Linked DNA regions of Homo sapiens. The protein of the gene in region 2 purifies or fractionates together with the protein of the main gene of each other region. This does not show direct contact. Each region holds a gene or a part of one and is shown on either strand. Other genes may lie near its edges.

Region 1 (3,657 bases), on a different chromosome or scaffold from region 2:
TTGTTTTATACATTTTATTATTTTTTCCTGAGCATAAAAGTAGAACATACTTGTAGAAAATTTGGAAAATCCAGAGATAACCAACATTTTTCTTCCTGTATTGTCTTACTATAGTTCTTCCTATATTCCTAAATTACATAATGAAATAATGCCATATGCATGCTTGTACCTTGAATCTTTTTACTTAATGTACACTGTGAGAAGTTTCCCATAGCATTATAATTTTATCTTTTTTAATAATTTCTGTAGAGACAGGGTCTGGCTATGTTGCCCAGGCTGGTCTCACACCCTTGGGCTCAAGTAATCTTCGCACCTCAGTCTCCCAAAGTATTGGGATTACAGGAATGAGCCACCATGCCCAGCCATAATTTCTTCTTAAACATAATTTTTAGTAATTACATAGTAACCCTGGTGTGTTTTTCTGTTTGTAGTCATTGATACACCTGAGGATGAAGAGATTCCAAAGGTTTCGACTAAGTTGTTAAAAGAGCAGTTTGAAAAGTCTGCCCAGGAAAAGATCCTTTATTCTGACAAAGAGATGACAACCCCAGCCAAGCAGATTAAGGTAAAGTCATTTCTTTACACAGAAACATACTAAGTGTAAGACCAAGCTTAAATGTGTAACATTTTCAAATTATTGAATACTTGAGGTGGCTTTTCAACAAAAAAAAATTCTGAACTGGCATTTATTCAGTTCTGTAAGGAGAATATTGACCTGCATGCAAAAGGAGGTAGAGTAAAAACTTTTCTCACTAGCAGAAAATAAGGGATGAAAAAATTATATATGTTCTAAAGTCTAATAATTAACATTAAAGTAATTAAATCAATTTTAAATGCCAGATGCTTACTCTGTTCTGTTTTAAATTCCAAGGAAAATGAAACAACCCTCAAAAGTACTTTAAGACTTTTACTGTTTCCCTCTAGATTACTCTGCATACCACATTAAGGGAAAAAGAATCACGATTATGTGTAAATTTTAAAATATTGAGTCCTTGTTGCATTGAATAGCAAATATAACTTTACAAGTAAAAATGGATTATAGGAGAGATAGTGACAAATATTGACTATTATTCCTAAGTTGGTCTTTAAATGAGTATATCACATATTGTTCCCAATGGAGATATCATAGGAGGGTCCAGGTTACAGACCAATGAAGGGCAGTGCCTAGGAAGCCTCTGCCACTACACTCACCTTTATAAGATTTGATTTTCTCTCCCCTAAAGACTGAAAGTGAATATGAAGAGACTTTCAAGCCATCATCAGTTGTGAGTACCTCTTCCACTTCTTGCGTTTCAACCAGCCAGAGGAAGGAAACATCAACTACAAGATATAGTGATCACAGTGTCACTTCCTCAACTCTGGCACAAATTAATGCTACTTCTTCAGGAATGACAGAAGAATTTCCTCCTCCCCCACCTGACGTACTTCAAACTTCAGTAGATGTGACAGCATTTTCCCAGTCCCCTGAACTGCCCAGTCCTCCTAGAAGACTACCAGTCCCCAAAGATGTATATTCCAAGCAAAGAAATTTGTATGAATTAAACCGTTTATATAAACACATCCATCCTGAGTTAAGAAAAAACTTAGAAAAAGATTATATCAGTGAAGTTTCTGAGATTGTTTCTAGTCAAATGAACTCAGGGAGTTCAGTCTCAGCAGATGTGCAACAAGCCCGGTATGTTTTTGAAAACACAAATGACAGTTCTCAAAAAGATCTGAACTCAGAAAGAGAATACTTGGAATGGGATGAAATTCTGAAGGGAGAGGTGCAGTCCATTAGATGGATCTTTGAGAATCAACCATTGGATTCCATCAACAATGGCTCTCCTGATGAAGGTGATATTTCCAGGGGCATTGCTGATCAAGAAATCATTGCTGGTGGTGATGTGAAATATACCACATGGATGTTTGAAACCCAACCCATCGACACACTTGGGGCTTATTCTTCTGACACTGTAGAAAATGCAGAGAAAATTCCTGAGCTAGCCAGAGGAGATGTCTGCACAGCTCGGTGGATGTTTGAAACAAGGCCATTGGACTCAATGAATAAAATGCATCAAAGTCAAGAAGAATCAGCGGTAACTATCAGTAAGGACATAACTGGGGGGGATGTCAAGACTGTGAGATACATGTTTGAAACTCAACATCTAGATCAACTTGGACAGCTTCATTCAGTGGATGAGGTTCATTTACTGCAGCTTAGGTCTGAGCTCAAAGAAATTAAGGGAAATGTTAAAAGAAGTATAAAATGTTTCGAAACTCAACCATTATATGTTATTAGAGATGGTTCGGGCCAAATGCTGGAAATTAAAACTGTTCACAGAGAAGACGTTGAAAAGGGAGATGTAAGAACAGCACGGTGGATGTTTGAAACACAGCCGTTGGACACAATTAACAAAGATATCACAGAAATTAAAGTTGTCCGAGGAATATCCATGGAAGAAAATGTCAAAGGTGGGGTGAGTAAGGCAAAGTGGTTATTTGAAACCCAACCTTTGGAGAAAATCAAAGAGTCAGAAGAGGTCATCATTGAAAAGGAAAAAATAATAGGTACAGATGTCTCCAGAAAGTGTTGGATGTTTGAAACCCAGCCATTAGACATTCTAAAAGAAGTTCCTGATGCAGATTCTCTACAACGTGAGGAGATAATAGGTGGTGATGTACAAACTACTAAGCATCTATTTGAAACACTTCCAATTGAAGCATTAAAAGACAGTCCTGATATAGGAAAGCTTCAAAAAATCACTGCCTCTGAAGAAGAAAAAGGGGATGTTAGGCATCAAAAATGGATTTTTGAAACCCAACCTCTGGAAGACATTAGAAAAGATAAAAAGGAGTACACACGAACAGTGAAACTTGAAGAAGTTGACAGAGGAGATGTGAAGAATTACACACATATCTTTGAATCAAACAATTTAATTAAATTTGATGCATCACATAAAATAGAGGTGGAAGGAGTTACAAGAGGTGCTGTAGAGTTAAATAAATCTCTCTTCGAGACAACACCACTGTATGCCATTCAAGATCCCCTTGGAAAATATCATCAAGTAAAGACAGTCCAGCAAGAAGAAATCGTAAGAGGTGATGTAAGAAGCTGTAGGTGGCTTTTTGAAACAAGGCCCATTGACCAGTTTGATGAAAGCATTCATAAATTTCAAATAATTAGAGGAATATCTGCTCAAGAAATACAGACTGGAAATGTGAAATCTGCCAAATGGTTGTTTGAAACCCAACCTCTTGATTCAATTAAATATTTTAGTGATGTGGAAGAAACAGAAAGTAAAACTGAACAAACTAGAGATATTGTTAAAGGGGATGTCAAAACCTGTAAATGGCTTTTTGAGACCCAGCCAATGGAGTCTCTTTATGAAAAAGTTTCGTTAATGACCAGCAGTGAAGAAATTCATAAGGGAGATGTCAAAACTTGTACTTGGCTCTTTGAAACTCAGCCACTTGATACCATAAAAGATGACTCTGAAACAGCAGTCAAATTGCAAACTGTAAAACAGGAGGAGATCCAAGGTGGGGATGTTCGTACAGCATGTTTTCTTTTTGAGACAGAAAATTTGGACAGCATACAAGGAGAAGAAGTGAAGGAAATCAAGCCTGTTGAAATGGATATACAAGCTGGAGATGTTTCCAGCATGAGGTATAAAT
Region 2 (3,657 bases):
AGGAGAACTGCAATAAGGCAGGAGAACACAATCATCTCTAAGTAGCACAACAGTATACGTCTTATCTCCTCTTCAGAAACATTTTCATCACAGAAGAGAAACAAAAGGTGCTCACGTTTATTCTCTTTACAAAATTTACCTGGGGAATCTGCCATAGAAGCATTATAACTGGAGGTCTGGGACAAACTTTTAAACTTTGGGGTGATCCTTCGAGGATGTGGTGTCACAAATAGTTGTTTTGGTGTCTGCCCAAATTCCAAGATTTGCGTAAGCATGGCTACCTTCTCATCAGGATCCTGGATGCTTTGGGACAGAACACAAATAATGCAGTGAACCACTAGGTTCGAGTTCCTTGAAAGCACGCATTTCAAATAGTACTGATCAATAGGAGGGACTAACCCTCAAATAATGACAGCAACTATGTACCAGGATTGTCTAAACCTCATTATAGACCTTCAGAATATTTTCTGATGCTCAGTAACACAACAGTGAAAGCAAGATAGAATTCATTTTAAAATTTCCATACCTCAACCTTCAAATAAATACATTAATAATTTAGATAAAGACATATCTTATAACTCAAGTAGAAACTCCTTATTGACATATAAGTACCTGTTCAAGTCTACACCTCCTTCATAGGTCAGGGGATGAAATACTGAAAAAGACATACAAAACACTATTGAAAGATGTGCTATTTCAATGTAATATACACTGTTTAGAACCTAAACAATGCAACAACTTAAAACTCATGTTCAAAGAAATTGCTATTCACTTTGCAAAACAGACTAATATCCAACTGCAGTAAATACCAACTTGAATATTATCTTCAGATGAACAAAAATCTACTTGTCAGGTAGAGGACCTGTCATCTCAGTCAGCATTGTTTTCTCCTGAGAGGAAGCATGACTTATAGAATTAATAAGACGGAATTTCCATGTAAAAAATTAGGTCTGAATTTCCAGCTACAGCTCCTTGTTATGAACATGGGCGATATGGATTATATGTGAGTTCATTTATTAAAAAAAGAAAACACACATGAGAAACGTGGAAGAAGATAAGCATTGAAACTGAAGAGAAGGTATATTGCTGCTATTTTCTGTTAAATTAAAAAAAAAAACTCTGGCAGCTACTTGGGAGGCTGAGGCAGGAGGATTGCTTGAACCCAGGAGCCAGAGGTTGCAGTGAGCCAAGACTGCACCACTGCACTCCAGCCTGGGTGACAGAGCAAGACTCTGTCTCAAACAAAAAAAAAAAAAAAAAAAAAGAAAAAAAAAAGAAAAGAAAAGGAAAAGAAACTCTGGGTCTTCCATAGGAATTGAGGCCACTGTTCTATCACACTGTAATAGAGTTTTAATTGAAATTATTCAGTGGGATGTAGAGTATATGCTAAAATTAGAAGACTTTATAAAAAGACCTCTTGGGGCCAGGATGAATTTGGTATTATTTGGGCAAAAGTCCTCCCTCCTTGTCAGTTACTCAATATCTAATCCAGGGGCTGGGCGCAGTGGCTCACACCTGTAATCCCAGCACTTTGGGAGGCCGAGGTGGGCAGATCACCTGAGGTCAGGAGTTTGAGACCAACCTGGCCAACATGGTGAAACCGTCACGACCAAAAAAAATACAAAAAAATTAGCTGGGCATGATGGCAGGTGCCTGTAATCCCAGCTACTCGGGAGGCTGAGGCAGTAGAATCACTCGAACCAGGGAGTCGGAGGTTGCAGTAAGCCAAGATTGTGTCACTGCACTCCAGCCTGGTGACAGAGCAAGACTCCATCTCAAAAAGAAAACCAAAAAAATATCTGATCCAGGGTCATGCAGCCAGTGGACGCTGGAGTCTGACAGAACATGCTTCCACTGAAGAAATAAGACTAATTGCTTTGGCCTCATTTTTTTGTTGGTATTGTTTGCTTTCATTTTCCAATGAAAATGAATAATGCTAAATATTCACCCAATGCTAAATAAAATTTCAATGAATATTACATACCATTATGGGCCCCAACTGCATCACTCCCTTTTTGTTTGTAGCCAAATATTAGATCAATCCACTCGTGAAGGTGTTCAGACACATAATTGCTTTCCAATGCATCTTTGCTCTTCTGGAGAAAGTCCTCGGGACCTATTAGATTAGACTCAATCGAAAAATCATGGAGTCTTCATTTTTTTCCTCCCATTTCTCTTGTCTATCTATATGTATATAAAGCTTCTAGGACAGGCAAGAGGTCCATATTTCTTAATGCAGTTTTCTTTTTCTATCATATGAAATGTAAGTTTTTTGGGGAAAAAAGTGGCAAGAATCATTTTCACATTAAGGTCTCTCAAATATATATTAATGTTTTTACATCACAGACTCATAGAATACTTCTGATATGGAATAGGGCTCATATATCCTTATTTAGAGAATTATATTGTGATTTTTAAAAATCTAAGCAATAAAATAATTACTGAAATTGCACTACTTGGTAAAGCATGTCTATAATACAACACCTCCAAGGGGGGACTCACTGGAAGCCCAAGGGGGAAGCTCCACGTCGTCAACCATCTGTCCTCCTTGTCTCTTTCCCAAATCCAACTTCAGGCTATTGACTAGAAAGCTCACATCATCACCATAGAATTCTGGAATTAACTGAAAGTTTCGGGGAAAAATAAAAAAGAACAACAAACATGTTTTAAAGCAGTTAGAAACCCCAAGTCCAGTTACTCATCAGCTTTATTAACTGCTTACCTCTTTAAAATCCGTTGCACCATCCAGACAGTTTTTCCAAGTTTCTGCAATACTACATATGAAAAAAAAATTCACCTATTTTCAGCTAAGGAAATAGCAATAGCAGCATTTCCTATGCACTTGGGGGCTGTTCTACACTTTACCTGTATTAACTTCTGTTTGTCATTTCCACATAGTTCTAACCATCTCTCTGAGTGTCCCACTTTAACAAAAGGGAACACTGGGGCCCAGAGAGTTTATGTAACTTCTCCAGGGTCACATGGCGGGAGTGGGCATAGAGTCCGAGTCCACACCATTAGCTACCATATACACATTGCCTCATCCAAGGGCCAAATGGAGCAGGGTGCCTCCACACTGAAAGATTAGCACCACTGGTAGGGCGCGGTGGCTCACACCTGTAATCTCAGTACTTTGGGAGGCCAAGGCGGGTGGATCACGAAGTCAGGAGATCAAGACCATCCTGGCCAACATGGTGAAACCTCATCTCTACTAAAAATACAAAAATTAGCTGGGCGTGGTGGCATGCGCCTGTAGTCCCAGCTACTCAGGAGACTGAAGCAGGAGAATCGCTTGAACCCGAGGCGGAGGTTGCAGTGAGCTGAGATTCTGCTCACTGTACTCCAGCCTGGGCGACAGAGCAAGACTCTGTCTCAAAAAAAAAAAAAAAAAAAAAAAAAGATTAGCACCACTATCTGAATGGCTCATTGCAAAAGGAATTATTATTAGATATGTGTAGAGTTCAAAAAAAATGAAAAGGACATACCAAAAAATTTACAACAATTATTATCTCAGTGTGGTGGGATACCAAGTAAACTTATTTCCTTTTTTATAGTTGCTGATTTTTTTGGCAAGAAAATATTACTTTTATAATTTAAAAAGTAAAGCCATCTAAATACACACAGGGAGCTGTATTCAATTCACAGCAAAATTATCAA

The links. The genes of interacting proteins can lie anywhere in the genome.
Region 1: the proteins of NSMAF (region 2) and XIRP2 purify together in Homo sapiens (affinity purification with mass spectrometry; one large-scale study listed by BioGRID and IntAct). This does not show direct contact.

What each region holds. Positions count from the first base shown.
Region 1 is NC_000002.12:167,241,346-167,245,002, forward strand, and holds part of XIRP2 (xin actin-binding repeat-containing protein 2), read left to right. Parts: intron 1-431; coding exon 432-565; intron 566-1,223; coding exon 1,224-3,657.
Region 2 is NC_000008.11:58,597,248-58,600,904, forward strand, and holds part of NSMAF (protein FAN), read right to left. Parts: intron 2,775-3,657; coding exon 2,723-2,774; intron 2,624-2,722; coding exon 2,503-2,623; coding exon of another isoform or gene 2,485-2,502; intron 2,250-2,484; exon of another isoform or gene 2,117-2,249; coding exon 1,985-2,116; intron 677-1,984; coding exon of another isoform or gene 656-676; coding exon 613-655; intron 304-612; coding exon 140-303; intron 1-139. UniProt on the Homo sapiens protein: Couples the p55 TNF-receptor (TNF-R55 / TNFR1) to neutral sphingomyelinase (N-SMASE). Specifically binds to the N-smase activation domain of TNF-R55. May regulate ceramide production by N-SMASE.